Homo sapiens: one gene and its partners. The protein of the gene in region 2 purifies or fractionates together with the protein of the main gene of each other region. This does not show direct contact. Each region holds a gene or a part of one and is shown on either strand. Other genes may lie near its edges. The genes, in order: PYGL, COLGALT1, COL21A1, PLOD2 and PRRC2C.

What was found.
Region 1: the proteins of COLGALT1 (region 2) and PYGL fractionate together in Homo sapiens (co-fractionation; one large-scale study listed by BioGRID). This does not show direct contact.
Region 3: the proteins of COLGALT1 (region 2) and COL21A1 purify together in Homo sapiens (co-immunoprecipitation; one large-scale study listed by IntAct). This does not show direct contact.
Region 4: the proteins of COLGALT1 (region 2) and PLOD2 fractionate together in Homo sapiens (co-fractionation; one large-scale study listed by BioGRID). This does not show direct contact.
Region 5: the proteins of COLGALT1 (region 2) and PRRC2C fractionate together in Homo sapiens (co-fractionation; one large-scale study listed by BioGRID). This does not show direct contact.

The regions. Positions count from the first base shown.
Region 1 is NC_000014.9:50,909,385-50,913,957, reverse strand, and holds part of PYGL (glycogen phosphorylase, liver form), read left to right. Parts: intron 1-827; coding exon 828-929; intron 930-1,654; coding exon 1,655-1,802; intron 1,803-1,921; coding exon 1,922-1,980; intron 1,981-2,086; coding exon 2,087-2,228; intron 2,229-3,855; coding exon 3,856-4,063; intron 4,064-4,573. UniProt on the Homo sapiens protein: Allosteric enzyme that catalyzes the rate-limiting step in glycogen catabolism, the phosphorolytic cleavage of glycogen to produce glucose-1-phosphate, and plays a central role in maintaining cellular and organismal glucose homeostasis.
Region 2 is NC_000019.10:17,561,852-17,566,424, reverse strand, and holds part of COLGALT1 (procollagen galactosyltransferase 1 precursor), read right to left. Parts: intron 1-4,573. UniProt on the Homo sapiens protein: Beta-galactosyltransferase that transfers beta-galactose to hydroxylysine residues of type I collagen. By acting on collagen glycosylation, facilitates the formation of collagen triple helix. Also involved in the biosynthesis of collagen type IV.
Region 3 is NC_000006.12:56,170,793-56,175,365, forward strand, and holds part of COL21A1 (collagen alpha-1(XXI) chain isoform a precursor), read right to left. Parts: intron 337-4,573; coding exon 168-336; intron 74-167; coding exon 1-73.
Region 4 is NC_000003.12:146,150,668-146,155,240, forward strand, and holds part of PLOD2 (procollagen-lysine,2-oxoglutarate 5-dioxygenase 2 isoform 1 precursor), read right to left. Parts: intron 1-4,573. UniProt on the Homo sapiens protein: Forms hydroxylysine residues in -Xaa-Lys-Gly- sequences in collagens. These hydroxylysines serve as sites of attachment for carbohydrate units and are essential for the stability of the intermolecular collagen cross-links.
Region 5 is NC_000001.11:171,533,396-171,537,968, reverse strand, and holds part of PRRC2C (protein PRRC2C), read right to left. Parts: intron 2,542-4,573; coding exon 2,372-2,541; intron 1,941-2,371; coding exon 1,691-1,940; intron 707-1,690; coding exon 496-706; intron 1-495. UniProt on the Homo sapiens protein: Required for efficient formation of stress granules.

The DNA of each region.
Region 1 (4,573 bases), on a different chromosome or scaffold from region 2:
GCCTAGGCAGGAGACTCACTTGAGGCCAGGAGTTTGAAACTAGCCTGGGCAACATGAGACCCACCCCCACCACCACCACCCGTCTCTACAAAAATAAAAAGATTAGCCAGGTGTTGTGGCATGCACCTGTAATCCTAGCTACTCAGAGGCTGAGGCAAGAGGATTGCTTGAGCCCAGGAGGTCAAGGCTGCAGTGAGCTATGATCACGACATTGCTTTACAGCCTGGGTGACAGGGTGAGATCCTGTCGCCAAAAAAATTAAATAAAAATAAAAATAATTTTTAGGCCGGGTGCAGTGGCTCACACGTGTAATCCCAGCACTTTGGGAGGCCGAGGAGGGCAGATCACAAGGTCAGGAGATCGAGACCATTCTGGCTAACACAGTGAAACCCCGTCTCTACTAAAAATACAAAAAAAAATTAGCCAGGCGTGGTGGCAGGCGCCTGTAGCCCCAGCTACTGGGGAGGCTGAGGCAGGAGAATGGCATGAACCCAGGAGGCGGAGCTTGCAGTGAGCCGAGATCGTGCCACTGTACTCCAGCCTGGGCGACAGAGCGAGACTCCATCTCAAAAAAAATGAATAAATAAATAAAAATAAATAAATAAAAATAATTTTTAAAAACTGCTGAAACTACATTTAAGATACTAGCAAAAGTGTTCTTCTCACATAGACTTTATAGACTCTTCTTTGAGTCAAACTATCCCATGTTCTGTGTGATACGTGAACTACACTGTGGTAGGTGACAGAGAGAAATACTGACAGAAACTGCCCATTTGGACTTGATTACCATCCCCAAATTGAAGTCATCTTTTCCTTTGAATTGAAAGAAAATTGGAGAAGACTATGTGAAAGACCTGAGCCAGCTGACGAAGCTCCACAGCTTCCTGGGTGATGATGTCTTCCTCCGGGAACTCGCCAAGGTGAAGCAGGTGAGCCTTCCAGGTGTGGGTCCCCTCCTGGGCACTCACTGTGAGAGTTTATCCTGTAGTTTTTGTTTATTTTTTGAGACAGAGTCTCGCTCTGTTGCCCAGGCTGGAGTGCAGTGGCACGATCTCGGCTCACTGCAACCTCCGCCTCCCAGGTTCAAGCGATTATCCCGCCTCAGCCTCCCAAGCAGCTGGGATGACAGGCGCCCGCCACCACGCCCGGCTAATTTTTGTATTTTTAGTAGAGACAGGGTTACACTATGTTGGCTAGGCTGGTCTCGAACTCCTGACCTCAAGTGATCCACCCGCCTCGGCCTCTCAAAGTGCTGAGATTACAGCCATGAGCCACCACACCCGGCCTATCCTGTAGTTTTTAAAAACAGACCACCCAGCCGGGCGCGGTGGCTCATCCCTGTAATCCTAGCACTTGGGCAGCCAAGGAGGGTGAATCACCTGAGGTCAGGCATTCAAGACCACTCTGGCCAACATGATGAAACCCCGTCTCTACTAAAAATACAAAAATTAGCCAGGCAGTAGTGGTGTATACCTGTAATCCCTGATAGGATAATCGCTTGAATGTGGGAGGTGGAGGCTGCGGTGATCTGAGATCATGCCACTGCACTCCAGCCTGGGCAAAAGAGTGAGACTCCGTCTCAAAAAAAAGAAAAACCAGACCACCCAATTCTTCTAGGCCAAAAGAGCTCTGGCACCATGCACTGTCTTAACAGGAGAATAAGCTGAAGTTTTCTCAGTTCCTGGAGACGGAGTACAAAGTGAAGATCAACCCATCCTCCATGTTTGATGTCCAGGTGAAGAGGATACATGAGTACAAGCGACAGCTCTTGAACTGTCTGCATGTGATCACGATGTACAACCGTGAGTCAGCCCTGTAGCCAACAAGCCCCCTTGCAGGTGGAAGCAGCAGACTCAGCATAGGTCTCACTGCCCTGACCGTCAGCTGTCTTCCATTTCATCCACTTCTCCATCTTTTTCAGGCATTAAGAAAGACCCTAAGAAGTTATTCGTGCCAAGGACAGTTATCATTGGTGGTAAAGTAAGTTGAATCTATTCAATGGGGACTTGAGGGCTCTAATCTCTTGCCATTCTTCTACTTCATCATGGCTGCCTTCTGTCAATGCGTTTGACCTTCTTCCCCAAAGGCTGCCCCAGGATATCACATGGCCAAAATGATCATAAAGCTGATCACTTCAGTGGCAGATGTGGTGAACAATGACCCTATGGTTGGAAGCAAGTTGAAAGTCATCTTCTTGGAGAACTACAGAGTATCTCTTGCTGAAAAAGGTACTACCCTCATTGCAAAATATGCAGGGGCCAGGGCAAACTCTAGAGATTACATGGTATGAAAGATGGGGCAGCCAACCTCCAGGAGCTAGTAACTTAGGATAGAAGGTGTCACTCTTGTGCAGAATAAGGGCCTACGGTAAGAGGTTTTAAAGTGACCCAAGTCACAATGAAATTGATGTCCTGGAGTCAGTATCACAGGATTATACTTGCAAGTACATTTTCTTCCAAGCCAGTGAGAGCTATGTGCTGGGGGAGGCAGCCCTGGGGTTTCAGCATCATTCAGAACCCGCTCTATAAAACAGAGGAAAGGTCTTCAGTTCCCAGCCCCAGTTTTGCAAGAGAACACCAAATCCCCAGTCTTCAGATATTTCTTTGGTCACCCTGTGAGAAGAAGGGCTGTCACTTGCTCTTGTATCAATAATAAATGAGGGCAGATGTGAGGCTGCCAAAGCACGAGGCTTAGATGTGCCTCACATGGGCACTTCAGCATCAAGCATGATGCTCCCACATGGGGACAGCCAGATGGGCAAGAAGCCAGTGTCCCTTTCTCTTCCACTGGGACCTTTGGTTATTTGGGTCACAAGCTCACAGAGCACCATCCACATGCAAATGCCCAACTGTGTATTCACCCACTTCCCAAACTGAAAAGGTAGAAAGGGAGCTTTTTCTTTTTGTGGTGTTTTTAGGTCCTCTGATGTTACTGTTTAAGAACTCTCTGCATAAAGGGAGAAGAGCCAGGTTCCTAGGGATGCAAAAGAAGATACATCTAATCCACAAATAAGCTCTCACAGTAAAGCAGAAAAGTGGTCCTGACCTTTGTAGTCAAAGGAAGTGCTTCAGGCAGCTCTAATTTGCGTGCAAATCAGCCTGAAAGGTCAGAGGCTAGATGTCTAGCCCCAGGCACACCTCAATTACGTGTGGCTTATTTCCCTGCAGGAAAAGTGGAAGGAAGGAGGTGAGAAGTAGAAGGAATGCAGACAATCCAGTCTCCTCAGGTTGCCAAAGAGGAGTCCTGGAGGGACACTCTGAATGTTATGGATCAAGAGAGAGAAGTTCAGCCTGGGCAGCATAGGGAGACCCCATACATACAAAAATTTTAAAAAATTAGCTGGACATGGTGGTGCTCGCTTGTAATTGCAGCTACTTGGGAGGCTGGGGCAGGAAGATTGCTTGAGCCTAGGAGGTCAAGGCTGCAGAGAGCTGTAATCGCACCACTGCACTCCAGCCTGGGTGACAGAGAGAGACCCTGTACCAAAAAAGAGAAAGAAAAAAAGAGAAATTTCAATATATTTTATAAAGTAGAAGAAATAAAAATAAAACTGTAACAAAAATTGGAAGGAATAAAAGGAAGAAGAGAAATGTAGTATCAATGTTTGTCGCAGTCAATAGATACTCTTCAAAGTTTATAGCTCGAGAAAGAAATACAAGCATATAAAATGGACAAAAGTGGTTGCCTGAGTCAAGGGGAAAGAGTGTGATCTGCCTTCTAGACCATTTGAATGTTTATCTTAATGTGCATGTATTACTTTAATTATCAAAACAGCCCAACTTAATAAATGCTTCAATACAATACAAGCAGATCTAGACAGACAAAATTACTAATTTTAACTTACCTTTCTTGCAGTCATTCCAGCCACAGATCTGTCAGAGCAGATTTCCACTGCAGGCACCGAAGCCTCGGGGACAGGCAATATGAAGTTCATGCTAAATGGGGCCCTAACTATCGGGACCATGGATGGGGCCAATGTGGAAATGGCAGAAGAAGCTGGGGAAGAGAACCTGTTCATCTTTGGCATGAGGATAGATGATGTGGCTGCTTTGGACAAGAAAGGGTAAGAGAATAGCTTCTCTTTGCTAGGCAGGACTGCCCCTCCCCCCTAGAAGGTATGTGACCTCAGAGGGCTTCCTGCCCACACCGATATCCCACTGAAATTGGATCACATAAGAGGTGGCAGCAGAACATCTCCCACGATGAGGCAGGAGAGCCTCCTGGCCACAGATTAATATTATTAAACCCAGCAAATAAAAGTACAGACACATGGAGGAGTTGCTATTTGTTATCGGCCATTGCAGAGCTGGCCTCAAAGAGCTATTTTTCCTCCGTATGTATGATTTTTACTTTGATCAAAAGATGAACCAGTTTCTAGTTGGAAGGGTTGCCTATAATTTAAATCATGATCTAGTGCTCCTTTAAGATATCAAAGAAATGCACTAAAATGTGATAGAGAATAGATACGGGTGTACAGAAGTAATTGGAAACATTTATTTTCACTTCATATCTGGATGGGTTTATTAACCTGAGTTCAAGCACAAAATAAAGAGTACTGCCCAAAGAAGTAACA
Region 2 (4,573 bases):
GACACAGAAGTCATGATATATCACAGAACTACCAGAAGGTTTTTTGTTTTTGTTTTTGTTTTTTTGAGATGGCGTCTCCTGTTGCATAGGCTGGAGTGCAGCGGCGTGATCTCGGCTCACTGCAACCTCCACCTCCCATGTTCAAGCAATTCTCCCTGAGTCTCCCAAGTAGCTGGGATTACAGACACATGCCACCACGTCAGGCTAATTTTTGTATTTTTTGGTAGAGATGGGGTTTCACCAGGTTGGCCAGGCTGGTCTCGAACTCTTGATTTCAAGTGATACGCCTGCCTCGGCCTCCCAAAGTGCTGGGATTACAGGTGTGAGCCATTGTGCCCGGTCTGGATTTTTTTTCTTTTACTGCTGGTCCACAGAGATGCTTTCTGTTACCCAGGCAGTATCGTTTAGAATATTTGGATTAACTGCCATGAACAACAACAAAAACTAGAATTCCAGTATCCCCTGGCAACGTGAGAATACCATTTCCACATGGCAACCTTCAGTTGCAGAGGGGAGGTGGCTGGGTCTTAGGACAAGCCCTGTGGTCATGTTACACACCCCATCCGGTCCCTCTGGATGTTTGAATCTGTGACCTTTGAATATTAATGCAGAACAAACAGCCAGATCACTGTGGCAGTTCCTCAAAAAGCTAAACATAGAATTACTACATGATCCAGGAATTCCATTCCTAGGTATGAACCAAGAGAATTGAAAGAAAGGACTCAAACAGCTTCTTTGTTTGTTTGTTTGTTTTTGAGACAGAGTCTTGCTCAGTCACCCAGGCTGAAGTGCAGTGGTGTGATCTCGGCTCACTGCAACCTCCACCTCCTAGGTTCAGATGATTCTCCTGCCTCAGCCTCCTGAGTAGCTGGGATTAAATACAGGCGCGCACCACCATGCCCAGATAATTCAAACAGGTCTTTGTACGCTCATGTTCATGTCAGAATCCCAACAGCCAGGCCGGGTGCAGTGGCTCACACCTGTAATCCTAGCACTTTGGGATGCCAAGGCAGGCAGATCACATGAGGTCAAGAGTCCAAGACCAGCCTGGGCAACACGGTGAAACCCCGTCTCTACTAAAAATAAAAATAAATAAAAATAATTAGCCGGGCATGGTGACACATGCCTGTAATTTCAGCTACTCGGGAGACTAACGCAGGAGAATCGCTTGAACCCAGGAGATGGAGGTTGCAGTGAGCCGAGATCGTGCCACTGCACTGCAAACCTGCGCGACAGAGCAACACTCTGTCTCAAAAAAAAAGTCTCAACAGCCAAAAAAGGTGGAAGTGACTGAAGTGTGTCCATCAACGGATGAGGAGATCAACATAACGTGGTCCACCCAGACAACGGAATAAGAGTCAGCCATACAAAGGAAGGAAGCACTGATCCAGGCTGTAATGAACCCTGAAAACTCAATGCTGAGTGAGAGAAACCAGACACGAAACGCCATATAGTGTGACATTCCATTGACAAATCCGTAGACAGGAAGCAGATTAGTGGCTGCCAGAGCCTAGGGGAGAGGAATGGGGAGTTGGGGAGTGACTGCTGATGGGAATAGGGTTTTCTTTCTGGGGAATGAAAATGTTCTAGAATTAGAGGTGGTGGTTGCAAAACAAATAAATATATATGTGAACTGACTTCAATTAAAACAAACAAGAAAGAGGAGAAAGTGAATCTCTCCAGGAGATACAATTAAAATTTAGATGCTGGCCAGGGGCGGTGGCTCACGCCTGCAATCCTAGCACTTTGGGAGGCTGAGGCAGGTGATCACTTGAGGTCAGGAGTTCAAGACCAGCCTGGCCAACATGGCGAAACCCCATCTCCACTAAAAATACAAAAACTTAGCCAGGCATGGTGGCGGGCACCTGTAATCCCAGGTACTCCGGAGGCTGAGGCAGGAAAATTGCTTGAACCCAGAAGGCAGAGGTTGCAGTGAGCCGAGATGGCGCCACTGCACTCTAGCCTGGGTGACAAAATGAGACTCCATCTCAAAAAAAAAAAAAAAAAAAAAGTAGATGTTTTTCTTTCTTGTTTCATATGTATATCTATATTATACACACACACACGTATATATGTTTATATACATATATAGATATATATACATATACACGTATATATGTATATATGTATACACACACGCACACACATACACACACACATACACATATACGAAGCTTAAGAAAGGGTCTCGCTCTGTCACCCAAGCTGGAGTACAGTGACACAATCATGGCTGATTGCAGCCTCCTACTCCTGGGCTCAAGCAATCCTCCCACCTCAGCCTCCCAATTAGCTGGGACTACAGACACAAACCAGTACACCTGGCTAATTTTTTTTTTTTGTTAGTTTTTGTAGAGATGGGGGGGGTCTCACTATGTTGCCCAGGCTGGTTTTGAACTCCTGACCTCAAATGATCCTCCCACATTGGCCTCCTGAAGCACTGGGATTACAGGCGTGAGACACACCCAGCTCGTATATTTTTATTTATTTTTTTTACCTGCAAGTAACATCCATAGCTTTTGTAAAAAGAGAGAGAAAGGGGGACCTTCAAACAATCATTTTAAAACATTAGACAAACTATTTCACATTCCAATATGGGTTCCAAAGTCCCCAGTTACAAAAATATAATTTTGTGACCAGGCGCAGTGGCTCACACCGGTAATCCCAGTAGTACTTTGGGAGGACGAGGTGGGTGGATCACCTGAAGTCAGGAGTTCGAGATCAGCCTGGTCAGCATAGTGAAACCCTGTCTCTACAAAAATACAAAAAAAATTAGTCGGGCCAGGCGCGCTGGCTCACGCCTGTAATCCCAGCACTTTGGGAGGCCAAGCCGGGTGGATCACGAGGTCAGGAGATCGAGACCATGCTGGCCAACACGGTGAAACCCTGTCTCTACTAAAAATACAAAAAATTAGCCGGGTGTTGTGGCGGGCGCCTGTAGTCCCAGCTATTCAGGAGGCTGAGGCAGGAAAATGGCATGAACCTGGGAGGCAGAGCTTGCAGTGAGCTGAGATCGCACCACTGCACTCCAGCCTGGGCGACAGAGTGAGACTCCGTCACAAAAAAAAAAATAGCCGGGCATGGTGGCAAGCATCTGTAGTCCCAGCTACTTGGGAGGCCGAAGCAGGAGAGTCACTTGACCCCAGGAGGTGGAGGCTGCAGTGAGCCAAGATCGCGCCACTGCACTCCAGCCTGGGCGACAGAGTGAGACACTGTCTCAAAAAAAAAAAAAAAAAAAAAGAAACACGAAAATATTATTTTGTGTCAAAAGCCACTTTGAGTTTTGAACCAGCACTTTGAGTTCCACCCCGGTTTGCTGAGGGAAAAAAAAGCTAAAGCCAGGCAACCTCAAACCACAAAAGCAAAATCCTAGAGGCAGGACAAGGCAGCTTTGTGTCAGAAGGCTCTGGAAGGCTCCAGATCCACCTCTCTGCCTCCTTGCCAGTTCTGACACCCCACCAGGCAAGATGTCCCCTCCGTCAGCCTGTTTCCTCACCTATAAAATGGTCTGATAAGGCACCAAGCGAAAGGGTCCCCTCAGGAGCTCCATCCGTCCTCCCTAGATGTGGCACTGTCCCCGTTCCTCTCTCCCTGGCACCTTCACATCCAGTGTCAAAGCAGAACCTGTCTCCTTCACCTCGTGACGCATCCTGAACCCCCTGCCTTTCTCCACGGCCCCCACCCCATGCAGGCCTGTCCATCAATCGCTGATACCCTGCTTGGGCCTCTACTCCAGCTTCCTGCTAGTGTGTGGCTTTTTTTTTTTGAGACATAGTCTCACTCTGTCGCCCAGGCTGGAGCGCAGTGGTGCAATCTCAGCTCACTGCAACCTCTGCCTCCCGGGTTCAAGACATTCTCCTGCCTCAGCCTCCCAAGTAGCTGGGGTTACAGGCGCGCATCACCATGCCAAGCTAATGTTTATATTTTGGTAGAAACAGGGTTTCACCATGTTGACCAGGCTGGTCTCAAACTCCTGAAGTCAAACAATCCACTTGCCTCAGCCACTCAAAGTACTGAATTTAGAGGCATGAGCCACCGCGCCTGGTCCACAGAGGCTTCTGAAAATCTCAAATCAGAACACAGACCTCCCCTGCTCACACACCCTCCATGGCTCCCCATTCCCCTCCAAGTAGACACCAAGTGCCTCCACTGGCCTGTGTAGTTGGACCTCTAGCCACCACTGCATCGTAATCACTTTGCTCACTTGACTCTTTGCTTTTTCTTTTCTGCTTTTTGTTTGTTTGTTTTAAGAGATGGGCTGGATGTGGTGGCTCACACCTATAATCCCAGCACTTTGGGAGGCCGAGGCAGCTGGATCACCTGAGGTCAGGACTTTAGAGACCAGCCTGGCCAACATGGCGAAACCCCGTCTCTACTAAAATTACAAAAATTAGCCAGGCATGATGGCGGGGGCCTGTAATCCCAGCTACCCAGGAGGCTGAGGCAGAAGAATTGCTTGAACCCAGGAGGAGGAGGCTGCAGTGAGCCGAGATTGTGCCACTGCACTCCAACCTGGGCAACAGAGACTCTGTCTCAAAAAACAAGAAAAAAGAAAATCAGGAGAATATAGAAAAGT
Region 3 (4,573 bases), on a different chromosome or scaffold from region 2:
AATTTTCTTGACTTTAAATCTTTGAGTAGACACAAATACATATGATGGAGGAAGACCTTCTGGGAAAACATTGCTAGAAAAAGAAGAGCAAGTGTAAGCTTAAAGAATTCTTGACATGTCCACAGACATATCCCCCCAAAAAAGTTGTGTCAACATATAATGCATACCTTGTGAGTTCTGATAAATCAACTTTTGATGTTACTTCATATCCTTTTATCTTTTTTGGTGAAAGCTGTATTCTTTTCTTAACCTTTTTATTTACATCTAAACCTAAAAGAATATCAAATCCCCTTTCATCACGAGCTGCCACTGGAATTCGTGTTGGACAGACAGATTCTATAAAGCAAAAGCAATAAAAGTTGGTTAATCATGGACTATTCAAACAATAAAAGAAAAATCAAGGGAGAAATACTAGACAATATAGTATTCTATCATTAGAATTATAAAATCTACATATGTATACAAATGTATAGTATATAAATGTATATGAATACATTTTCTGAGAAAATGTAGAAGTATTTTACACATTTAAGAGTGAGATCTTAATATGCTTTTTTCTCTAAAAAATAAGGGATAAAAGTAAAACAAAAATATAAATATTTGTTAATGTATTGTCTTTAGCAAAAAATTGAGACAATAGCAATATGAGACAATATAACACCTATGGAAAAGAAAAACAATGGAACAGGATTTATCATTCTCATCCAGGATTTCCTATTAACTAGTCATACAACTTTGGATAATGCTTTTAATTTATTTAATTCAAAAATGAACACTAAAATTCTTTTCTTGCATTCTTAGCATTTAAGGGGTAAAAAGTATTTTCTGTTCTTGATTTTCTTTCCAGTTCAAGCAGCTTATATTTCTATAGCTCAAATATCATTAGTCTGTCTCTCTGGAAAAAACTTAACCTGGGTCCCATCTATTCATGAAAGTTCTTCAGACGGACATATTATCTCATCTATAATTATATATTAATCATACTTATAAAGAATATTTTCTTAAGAATAATCATTAGCATTACATAGTCAGCTATATAGGTAATAAGTATGATATACTTTAGCTGAAGTATACAATGACTGAAAAAATTTACTAAAGATGATTAATAGCAGACTTTAACAAGCAGAGGGAAAAGAATCAGCAAACTCAATAATTGGTCATTTGAAATTATCCAGTTAGAGAAACAAAAAGAAAAAGGAAGAGAAAGAGTGAAGAAAGCCTAAGAGATTTAAGCAACACCATCAAGCATACCAATATATGCATTTTGCGAGTTCCAGAAAAAAAAAAAAGAAGAGGGTGAAAAGGGGACAAAAAGCTTATTTAAAGAGATGAGGCCAACAACTTCCCAAATCTGGGAAAGGATATGGATACTCGAATTCAAGAAGCCTAATATATGCTAAGTTAAACCCAAAGAAATCCACACTGAGACACATTGTAATCTAATCGTCAAAAGTTAAAGGCAAAGATCACATTTTGAAAGCAGCAAGAAAAAAGAGACTTGTTATGTACAAGGGAACCTTGATAAGACTATCAGCAGATTTCTCAATAGCACCATTGCAGGCCAGGAGTGGGATGACATATTCAAAGTGCTGAAAGGAAAGAAAAAACCTGCCAAACAAGAATGCTATGTCTGGCAGAACTGTTCTTCAAAAATGAAGGAGAAATAAAGACTTTTCTAGATAAACACAAGCTGAGAAAGTTCATCACCATCAGACCTGCCTTATAAGAAATTCTCAAGGAGTCCTTCAAGATCAAACAGAAGTATACTAATCAGCAACATAAAAGCATAAGATAGTATAAATTTTTCAGATAAAAGTAAATATATAGACAGACACACAATATTATAATACTGTAACAGTGTGCATAAATGACTTTTAATTCTGGTGTAAAAGTTAAAAGACAAAAGCATTTTTAAAAACTGTAACTTTAAAAATATGTTAACAGATATAAAATATAAAAAGATGCAATTTGTGGCATCAGTAACAAAGGACAGGTAGCAAAAATATAGAATATTTATATGTAATTTAATTTCATACCAACTTAAAATAAGTTGTTATAATTACATGATGTTTCATGTAACCCCTATGATAACCTCAAAGAAAATACCTACGGAAGATAAATAAAATGATAAAGGACATCACTACAAAAAAAGCAATAAAACACAAAGGAAGACAGTAAAAGAAAAAAAGAGGGACAAAAAGCTACAGGAAAGACAGAAAATAATTACCAAAATGGCAACAATAATTTTTCCCTATCAGTAATTACCTTAAATGTAAGTGAGTATACTCCTTAATCAAAGTACATAGAGAGACTGAATGGTTTAGAGCTACAGATCCAGCTATATACTATCTATGAAAGACTCTAGCCTGGGCAACATGGCAAAACCCCATCTCTACAAAAACAAAAACAAAAGCAAACAAACAAAAAACAACAAAATTAGCCATGCATGGTGGCATGTGCCTGTAGTCTCAGCTACTCAGGAGGCTGAGGTGGGAGGATTGACTGAGTCTGGGAGGTTGAAGCTGCAGTGAGCTATGATCATGCCACTGCACTCCAGCCTGCGCAACAGAATGAGACAAAGGAAAGGGAAAGGAGAAGGGGAAGGGGAAGGAAGGGAAAGAAAGGGAAGGGAAGGGGGGAAAAGGGAAAAGGGAAAGGAAAAGAAAAGAGAAATGAAAAGGACTCACTTTAAATTTAAGGACACACATAGGCTGTAAGTGAAAAAATGAAAAAAGATATTCCATGCAAATGGTAGCCAAAAGACATCAGAGATGTCTATACTTATATCACACAGTACAAAACTATAACAAGAGACAAAGAAAGATATCCTACTATGATAAAAGGGTCAACTCACCAGGAAGATATAATAATTATGATTATATATGCAGCCAACATCATGATAACAAAAATACGAGGCAGACATATACAGAACTGAAGGGAGAAATAGAAAGAAACACAATAATAGTAGAGGATTTCAATAATGATTAGAACATTCAAACAGAAGATCAATAAGGAAATAGAAGACTTGAACAATACTATAGACCAAATGAACCTAGCAGATGCATACAGAATATTCCACCAAACAGCAGCAGAATACACATTCCCTTCAATTGCACATGAAACATTCTCCAGGACAGACCACATGTTAAATCACAAAACATGTCTTATTTAAGAAGGCTGAAATCATACCAGTATATTTTCCAACCACAATGGAATAAAACTAAAAATTAACAACAGGAGGAAAATTGAAAAATTCACAAATATGTAAAAATTAAATAGCACACTTTTGAATAGCCATCAGGTCAAAGAAGAAATCAGAGACAAAGTTAGAAAATACGTGATGACAAAATCACAACATCCAAAATTTATGAGATGCAGGAAAACAGTACTAAGAGAGAAGTTTATAGCAATAAATGCCTACATTAAAAAAGAAAAAGGATATCAAATAATCAAATAAACAACTTTATACCTCAAGGACCTACAGAAAAAAAAGACAAACTAAGCCCGAAGTTAGCAGGAGGAAAAAAATAATTTAGATTTAAGCAGTAATAAATAAAATAGAAAATGGAAAGAAGTCAACAAAGCTAAGAGTTGCTTTTTTGGAAAAATCAACAAAATTGACAAACCTTTAACTAAATTAAGTAAAAACAGAGAAGACTCAAAACAGGAAGTGAAAGAAGAGATATTACAATTGATGCCACAGAAATAAAAAGGATTTTAAGTGACCACTATGAACGACTATATATCAACAAATTGGTAACCTAGAAGAAATGAATAAATTCCTAGAACATATAACCTACCAAAACTGAAACATGAATAAATAGAATATATGAACATACCTATAACTAGAGATTAAAGGAAATTAAATCAGTAATCAAAACACCCCAACAATAAAAGCCTAGTACCAGGTGGCTTCAGTGGTGAATTCTACCAGACATTTAAAGAAGAATTAATATCTTTCTTAAGATCTTTCAAAAAATTGAAGAGGAGTAAACACTTCTAAACTATTTTTATAAGGCCAGCATTAACCTGATACCAAAGCCAGAAAAAGATACCATAATAAAATAAAACTACAAGCCAATATCCCTGATGAATATAGATGTAAATATCCCCAATAAAACACTAACAAACTGAATTTAACAGCACATCGAAAACATCATACACCATGACCAAATGGGAATTATCCACAGGATGAAAGAGTTTGACATATAAAATCAATAAATGTGTCATTGACAGAATGAAGGAAAAGATAACATGATCATCTCAATGGAGGCAGAAAAATAATTGACAAAAATCAGCACTATTTTATGATAAAAGCACTCAACAAGTAAGGAATAGAAGGAAACTACTTTAACATAATAAAGACCATATTTGAAAAGTTCACAGCTAACATCACACTCAATGATAAAATGTTAAAAGCTTTTCCTCTAAGATGAGGAACAAGACAAAGATACCTAATTTCACCACTTCTATTCAACATTGTACTAGCCAGAGGAATTAGGCAAGAAAAGAAATAAAAGGCATTCAAATCACAAAAGAAATAAAATTATCTCTGTTCACAGATAGCATGATC
Region 4 (4,573 bases), on a different chromosome or scaffold from region 2:
CTCCCATTACATGAGTTCACCTGTGTAACAAACCGTCACATGTACCCCTGAACCCTAAATAAAAGTTAAAAAAAAAAGTTACCAGCATAATTGTTATTAATTTATTTGACTTAAAGGTCAGGACTGAAACAGATGAATATAAGTTTATTTTTTTAACAGCATACAATATTTAAATGTACTGAAGAGGATACGGTTCCTCTCTGAAAACAGAAAATAGCTTCATAAAAACACCAGACTTGTTTTCTCTTCTCATATAAAAACACTTGGAACCTTTTTAAATGTAAATTTAATTCTAGTTATTCTTGGCCTACTGTCCTGCATCTAAATCAAAAGCTAATTAAGAGAAAAAAGCAACACCAAGTCCTGGCCAAGTCCAGATCTTGATACAACAACCAGTAGAAAAAGTAGAATTTAAAACACAAAACAACCTTATATCTATGCCTTCTTTGGCCTAACAAATAATAGTAAGTTTTCTTGAGACCTCTTTTCTGATTCCTGCAGCACTCTGTCTCTACCACCATTCTGACACTTAAAAGTCAAGAGACATTGGCCAAGCACGGTGGCTCACGCCTGTAATCCCAGCACTTCAAGAGGCTGAGGTGGGCGGATCACCTGAGGTTGGGAGTTCAAGACCAGCCTGACAAAAATAGAGAAACCCGGTCTCTTCTAAAAATACAAAATTAGCAGGGCATAGTAGCGCATGCCTGTAATCCCAGCAACTGAGGAGGCTGAGGCAGAAGAATCGCTTGAACCCGAGAGGCGGAGGTTGCAGTGAGCCAAGATCGCGCCATTGCACTCCAGCCTGGACAAGAAGAACGAAACTCCGTTTCAAAAAAAAAAAAGTCAAGAGACATCAAATCACAGCACTGTAAGGATCACAAATTACAAGTAAAATCTGACGAGGCTCAAGAATCGGCTCAAGGTTGGTGAGTGGAAGGATGAGAACTTAGATGTAGGTTTCCTGATGCCAGATGTGTGTGTTCTTCCCTGCAGCCCAGGTTGCTTACCCGTAAGTGCTTCTCAGATTTGCTCCGTTTTATACATACATTATTTTCCCTGTAAGAATCTTAGAATTTCAATACAGAACAGGAACTGAGCCTTGTGTGGTTTTTGTTTGTTCATTCTGGTTTGTTTTTTCTGTTTTTCCTTCACACAAAGCAACAGAACACAGACTAGCCAGTCAATAAATACTCCAATTATTTTTTAAAATATTAATTACCAAAATTTCACAGTATTACACAATGGGAATTATTGTTGGCATACATTTGCATCTAAAAATTTACAATGCTGTTAGTTACCTCTAAAAAAGTTGTATTATGAGGGAATTTGTAAAGCTTAGCTAAATAAACTAATGTAGATTTACTAAATTATATAGGTTTATAAAAGCATACACAAACTGCTACTAAAATCAAGAATTAAAGCAATACAAAAATAGTCATGGGCAACAGCATAAAAATTTTCTACCTATTGGCCAGGTGCAGTGGCTCATGCCTGTAATCCCAGCACTTTGGGAGGCTGAGGCAGGTGGATCATCTGAGGTCAGGAGTTTAAGACCAGCCTGACCAATATGGTGAAACCCCCGTTTCTACTAAATATACAAAAATTACCTGGCCGTGGTGGCACGCACCTGTAATGCCAGCTACTCAGGAGGCTGAGGCAGGAGCATCGCTTGAACCCGGGAGGCAGAGGTTGCAGTGAGCCGAGATTGCACCACTCCACTCCAGTCTGGACGACAGAGCAAGACTCCGTCTCAAAAAAAAAAAATTCTATCTAGTGAAGAAAATTAAGTGTCCAATGGCTACAGTTATGCTAATATGTAATGTAATATGTCCCTAAGAAATGACAAATATACCTAGACCATCTATTACCACTTGTCTACCCATGGATCTCATGGACTCCAATCATGGAGAAGAGTCATCTGTGTAAAAGAAAGTGGTAGGAAGAAGTGAGGAATGAGAGTGAAGAGGGGAGAAAGAAACGCTGGACAAGGACACAGAATTCATGAACCCTCAAAATGTGCTGGGTGTGCAGGTATCCAGGTTGCTTACCCATAAGTGCTTCTTTGATTTGCTCAGTTTTATATATACATTATTTTCCCTGCAAGAATCTTAGAATTTCAATACAGAACTATACCAAAGTCAGAGAAGAGTAAGAACTCTGAATCTCTGCTTTGTAAGTCTGTTCATTTCTTTGCTTCGGTGATTTTCCAGTGTGAGGTTTTGTTTTGTTTTGCCCTTGGTTACTTAGTAAAGTCACTGTTTAAAAAATTCCAACCTTGTCTAAACTAAACTAAGAAGAAAAGGAGGATTGTCCTTCTCTAGACGTGGCCGGCAGGAATTCCAGAGGCCCTGGACCAGCAGGGCATTCTGGTCACCACTGTGGTGCCAGCTGGAGGCCAGGAAAGAACCAGCATAGCCAGAGCAGGAGAAGAGGCCTCTGAAGACAAGGTGCCTCAGAGCTGGCTTGGACAAGACCGGAAAATCCCATCAAAGAACCCATCCGCCCTCTTCATAACAACAGCGCTCTAAGACTTCCCCAGGTGATCACATTATGGAGATCATTTTAGTCTACCAGCAAACTGTTAGCTGGTTCCTTTTTTCAAAAAGAAATAATTTAAATTCTGTATTTGCAGAATTTTTAAAGATGAGATAGCTGTTGGTGTTTAGTACATTGCTAGAAACAGGAAGGAAAGATTTAAATGTTTAAAGAACCTGTTAGAGAATGCATTTTAAAAGACCTAAATGTTACTGGCCCCCTTCTTAGCCCTGTGTGCAGCATCTGTTAAGTATTTCGCACCTGAAAGCCCACAAAAGTTGTGGCTTCAAACCATTTAAAACAGAATAGTCAATGACAGAGCAGCCTTGCCTATGAGACACTGTGTGCTGGGGCTCTGGAATAAAGTATAGCTTCTGGAGCTTTTCTTCTCCCAGGCCAGATCGATGCCCTAGCATCACAAAGCCAAGGTTGCCAAAATCCACATATCTATTTCGCTTGTTGCTGTGCCTGTGGGAGGGTCAAGCTGTGGAGCATGATGCATATTCAGTATCTCCTTACTGCACTTGAGTGTCCGAGACTGACCAGGAGTACTGTCAAGAACAATAAAAATTATGTGTACTTGAAAATTCCTTTGTTCCATAAAGAATTTTTACCTGTCCACAGCACAAAAAAAAAAAAAAAGATAAGAAAAACAGCATTTAAATCAGAGGAAAGTCCTATCTCTCACCTACCGTTTGGAAGGAACCCTAAAATAGGTTAGCAGTAACTAGAAAGCAAATGAGAAAGTTCTTTGTAAAAATTTGAGAATATAACCCCAAATTAAATGAGCAGATGATTAGTTAATGCACCAGGATGTCTTATGCACACAAGATAATAAAAGCAATATTAAAATCAATAAACTATCAGTGTAACAAATGATATTTAATTTCAACTCTGGCCCATTTTTGAAAATTCACCAATGTTTATATGAAACACTTTTCCTGACCACTTTCCTGCCTCAAGTAGCCCCTCATTTTAGCCATATGTTCACCAAGACTTTTATTTGTATTAAAAGTCTATTGAGTATATTTACAGTAATAATCATGTTCTTTATTGTATTCAAACTTGAAATACGGTTTTTTCTTTAAACTTCTGGTGTAGATTTTTATTATAAATACAGTAGTTCTTCAACCAAAAAAGGAAAGGACACTCCAATGTAGTATACCTTGTCACTTCTGTATTGATAATGCCTGGGGAGTATCCCCATCACTCATGAACTTGCACAGAAACTGATACTCCCTTGTGAGAAGACTAATAATAAAAAAGAACAGCAAAAAAAAAAAAAAGTTAGTGTTAATTGCTCTTGAAATGAAGAGCAAAGGTTATCCAGTTGCTATTTATAGATTTTTTCCTGGTTAAAATTTAATTACAAACCTATACAAACTAAACTTTAAACCTAATTTCTTATAGCGGAAAAGAAATTGTAAACATGAAGCATATTTCCACACTAACAAATTAAGCATTTTCTCACTTAATCACATCTCCTTTAAGAAATAAATTCAAGAAAGGGGGAGTATATCCATATTTTAATAGAAATTTTAAAATGATTTTTATTTTCCTAAATCTGCCACAATGTGCTACTAAAACAATCAAGGCCTGAAAAAAATGCATGAGTCAATCAGTAACTAAGTATGTAAATGCATAAACCTGATTGTATTGTTTTGAAGAAAACCAAATTAAAATTAACAAAAGTACACTTCCCTCTTTTAATACACAAAAGAAAATCTGTAATGAAAATCTTCCTTTTGTGTATAAAAACGATGTATCTTTGCTCTTTGAATTGCTTGTAAAGTTACTCTGAAAACAAAAACTTATTTGAAGATACTACATTTTTAAATTATAAACTATTTTTTGAAGAGGTATCTTTGTGACACAGTCGGGCAGTAATCAATTCTGTACTGCTGCACCATCTTTAGTAGTGTAATTACCAAATATGGGTTGCAACATGTAGGCTTTAAGGTGGTAAGCAGAATAAAGATAACAACAACAGAGTTGCAGTCCCAGCTACTTGGGAGGCTGAGGTGATAAGCAGGATCAT
Region 5 (4,573 bases), on a different chromosome or scaffold from region 2:
AGATCGCGCCACTGCACTCCAGCCTGGGAGACAGAGCAAGACTCTGTCTCAAAAACAAAAACAAAAACAAAAACAAAACAAAAAACCCCACAAAGATTAGCGGGGTGTGGTGGTGAACGCATGTAGTCTCAGCCACTCAGGAAGCTGAGGTAAGCCGATCACTTGAGCCTGGGAGGTGAACGCTGCAGTGAGCCAAGATCATACCAACGCACTCCAGCCTGAATAACAGAGCAAGTTCCTATCTCAAAAAAGAACCTACCAATTTCAACATCTAATACTAAATTACAGCATACAATTGAGTACAGAACCAGGTTACAAAATGCCCTAATGAATACAGAGAATATGTCCAAAGAGTAAGCGTAGCATGCTAAATTAAATAGAAGGAAACCAGATTTATGCTTCAGTCCTAAATTGGAATGATCTTCAGAAACACTACACAGTTTTCCTTTTACCAAAATATTCTGTATCATCTATTAAATTGAAATAATTTATTACCTTACATCCTCAGGCTCTTCTGTTGCTTTGGGAGTAGTTGCTTGTTGAGGCTCAGCATGAGGATAGGGATCTGACCCCCACAGCATACGAGGCTCAGAAAGGGAAATTGCGTGATCTCTTGCAGATCGAGCTATATGCTCAAATGACTCAGAACTGTTCGGTGACCCTTCCATCTGGTCTCTTCTCATTAATGGTTTAGGAGGAATCATTCCTGTAACAAAAGTTCAGAAAAAGGTGAAATGAGGATTTTGAAAAATGAACGAAACAAAACCATGATAGACATAGAATACAGGTTATTAATTGTTAGGTGGAATTCTCCATATTAAAAGCATTTTTTTCCTGAGTAAAAGATTGGTGGAAATTATGTAAGGGTTGTTCTGTGAATGGAATTTTATTACTGCTGTTAAATAAAAATTGCATTTAAGAACTGAGGAAGCAAAATAAGCAAAATCACAATAGCAGCCTGTTTTACTTCAAAAGAAAGAAAATATTATGCATATAAAAATCAGACACCAAGTACTGTGACTCTGGATGTCAATACAAACATCATGAAAATTATACTATGATAACTTTCAGAGAAAATTCTTTCCTAAATTCCATTAACCTACCTTAGTTGGTCAATATTCTACAAAATATGCCACTTAAATTTCCAAATACCAGTATAAATGTAAAAATCAAAACATGATTTGTGATCAGCTTATCATCCCTAAATTTTCCTCTGTAACATTTTGGTAATAGATTATCTTGATTTATTCTGATGGATTCCATAAAAGACTGCTAATTCACTTTTTTTCCCCCTAACCTAAAAGGAAATTCAAGTGTTAGGTTGGTAAATGATGGAAGAAGAACTTGAAAAGGAATATATATAACATATGGACAAAATTCAAACGCTGAAAACACTTTAAAGAAGAACAACAATGTAGCCAATAACAAATACTGTTAATAACACATAATTATTTCCATCTGAAGTTTTAAATAATACTTACAAAACAGAAATGAACTAGTATTTTGTTCTTGCCACATAAGTAATATGAGTGTCAGATATTTAATTACTCGATGCTGAAAGTTACATCATTTTGATTAAAAATCGGAGGTTTAAGTTTTTCCTAGATTACAACTCTCAAAGGAACTGAAACTAAAAGCAGGGAAAAAAAAATTTTGATCCTGTAAAACTATAAATGCAAATTCAACTGACCAGGATGAATGGGTGGAATATCCATAGCAGGTCTTCCTGACATCATTCGAGGATCCATGTAGGACTGCATCATGAGCCACCTTGGATCAAAACCCATAGAAGCCAAATGCTGAGGATGAGGCTGCATAGGCTGATAAAGAGGTCTGTGTGGTGGAGGAGGGACAGTACTACTGGACGGTTGTGAAGGAACAGTCTGTGGAAGTACACCTTGCTGTTGCTGCTGCTGCCACTGCTGCTGTTTCATCTGTTCCTGAAAAAGTAAGATCCCATATCTTGAGAGTTTAGTTCCACATGACAAATTAACATAATCAATCATATCACAAAATAATGGCCTGTTTTGAATCCTTGAAGGAAAAGTAAGAGTTCAAAAGGTATTTAACAGTTAAGAGTTGGCAAGACAAAAAACTGAAAGATGAACTATAACATTTTACCTTATACTCAAGCACTGTATGATCTATCTCCTAGAAATGGAAGATGGTGTCTATAAATGAGGCAGAAGATCAAAAGGAATGACACAGAAGGTCAAGGTAAAACCCACGTTAACTTTTATTTACAAGGAAAAATAATTTCAAGGGAACTTTGTGTGCTTTACGTATTATCAGTTTTATGTCTAATTTCCCAGACTACTGCATAATAAACCACTTCAATCACACATACATGATAAAATATTTTTATCATTACCTGCTGCCGCTGGAATCGTGGAGGTAAAGACTTCTGAAACTGTTTGAAATAGCCAGATAATACAGCCGGCCGAGGTTGAGACCCTGATTCTGGTTCTGTTTCATGCACCACTGGTGTGGCTTCCTTTTCACTGCGATTGCTGTCTTGTCTAGTGAAAACGGGTTCCTCCTCTGCTCAAAGAAAAGGTGAAAGGTAATAGTATTCATCTATGACACTTATCAAACACAGGATTTTTACAAAGACTGAGGTATAATAAAAGTTAATGAGGAAGAAAATATCCTCGACACTCTAAAACATTATTTTCTACTTTAACATTGGTAGTTATCAATGAGGTAACATTAGATTATCAAAACCTTAGATTTCCTAAAAGCTGCATTCTTAGAGATGGAGAGCAGAGATCCAAATGCTTCATCATATAAAATCTATGTTTTTTTTTTTTAAATAATGAAACATTTCCAACTCCACATATTTTTTATTTGTTTCAATAAACATCAATGTAATTGTCAGTATTTACTGGTAGTTCATTAAAATCTACATGAAAACACAAATGGCCTATAAATACTTAAAAAGAGAGCATGTTGGTTTATTTAGTTATTTATTGGGTAAAGGGACTATTATCTGTAAGGAAAACTAATGAGTTTAAGTCTGAAGACAACAGAGTGATCACTAGTTATCTTCAAACATAATTCATTCTAGAATGTCATTTGTCACAATTACAAATCCACGCTTGTTACAAATTCTTTTCTCAAATGACTAGTAATGAATTTAAAATGGAAGTTTATCTCCCAATGTAAAAGCATGCTGTTAAGAATCACAAATAACATTTTTATTGCTTGGATTACATTCAATATTAAGAATGTTGTAAAAGAGTGAGCAGGTCATGGTGGTGCATGACTGTAATAACAGTAACTCAGGAGGCTGAGGTGAGAGGATCACTTTAGCCTGGGAGTTTGAGACCAGCCTGGGCAACACAGCCAAAAAAAAAAGAATGGAAAATAATATACTGGAGGAAAAAGAGCCACATAGGCACTGACTTTAAAATCACGTGTGTCTTGAGAACATCTCAGAGAGCATTAAAACAAACAAAAAAATTGTATGTGTCTAGTATCAGAATTGAGGGGGGAAAAAAAAATCACATGGGTACATCTCACTGATAAACAAGCTAAAATTAAATTGCCATGAGAGAGAATATATAAAATGTGAATGAAAATAAAAGCACAAATAAAACTTATTAAACTATGATAATGTTTTCCTTTCTCTTGTGAACACTTTATTTCACTATTTTGGTGTTATGAGCAATCTTCATAAGTACTTATGTAATATAAGCCCACTATTCAATAGCAAAGTCTCTCTAGATTGATTAATATGAAAAAAATCTGAAATCTTAGAGTCTTAACAAATGGTCCATACAGGCCTTATTTCATTAAAAAAATTAAAGATAAAATACTCATACTCCTTTATAGTTAAATTAAGAGCCAAGTTTGAAGGTAACCCTGCATATAAATAAAAACTTTATTTTTAAAAACACATTCTTATTATTTTAAGCAGCAGTGCCTTGTAGAAAAGAGCATGAGACGTCAGGTTAGAAAACTTACAATATTTCCACATCAGAAAATACACTGAAATAAAACTGCATTTCTATTTTAATTCAAGTCGTTCATTAAAACTAAACTTTAGGCTGGGCGCGGTGGCTCACGTCTACAATCCCAGTACTTTGGGAGGCCGAGGCAGGCAGATCACGAGGTCAAGAGATTGAGGCTATGCTAGCCAACATAGTGAAACCCCGTCTCTACTAAAAATACAAAAATTAGCTGGGTGCGGTGGCACGCGCCTGTAGCCCCAGCTACTTGGGAGGCTGGGGCAGGAGAATCACTTGAACCTGGGAGGTGGAGTTTGCAGTGAGCTGAGATTCCGCCACTGCACTCCAGCCTGGAGACAGAGAGAGACTCTGTCTCAAAAACAACAACAACCACCACCACCACAACAACAACAAACAAAAAACGAAAACCCTGAACTTTAACTTTGCCAAGGCTTTATACTATATTTGAATGCCATTAATCAGTCTACAAGCCAACTCGGAGAAGAACAAAAAAGTTGATTAGATCTAGAAAAAGAATTTTATTTTAAAGTATAATTACTCCAGGAAATTACAGTTTAATAGCATATCAACTACACCATGGAAGCTTGCATGTTTAAACTGAT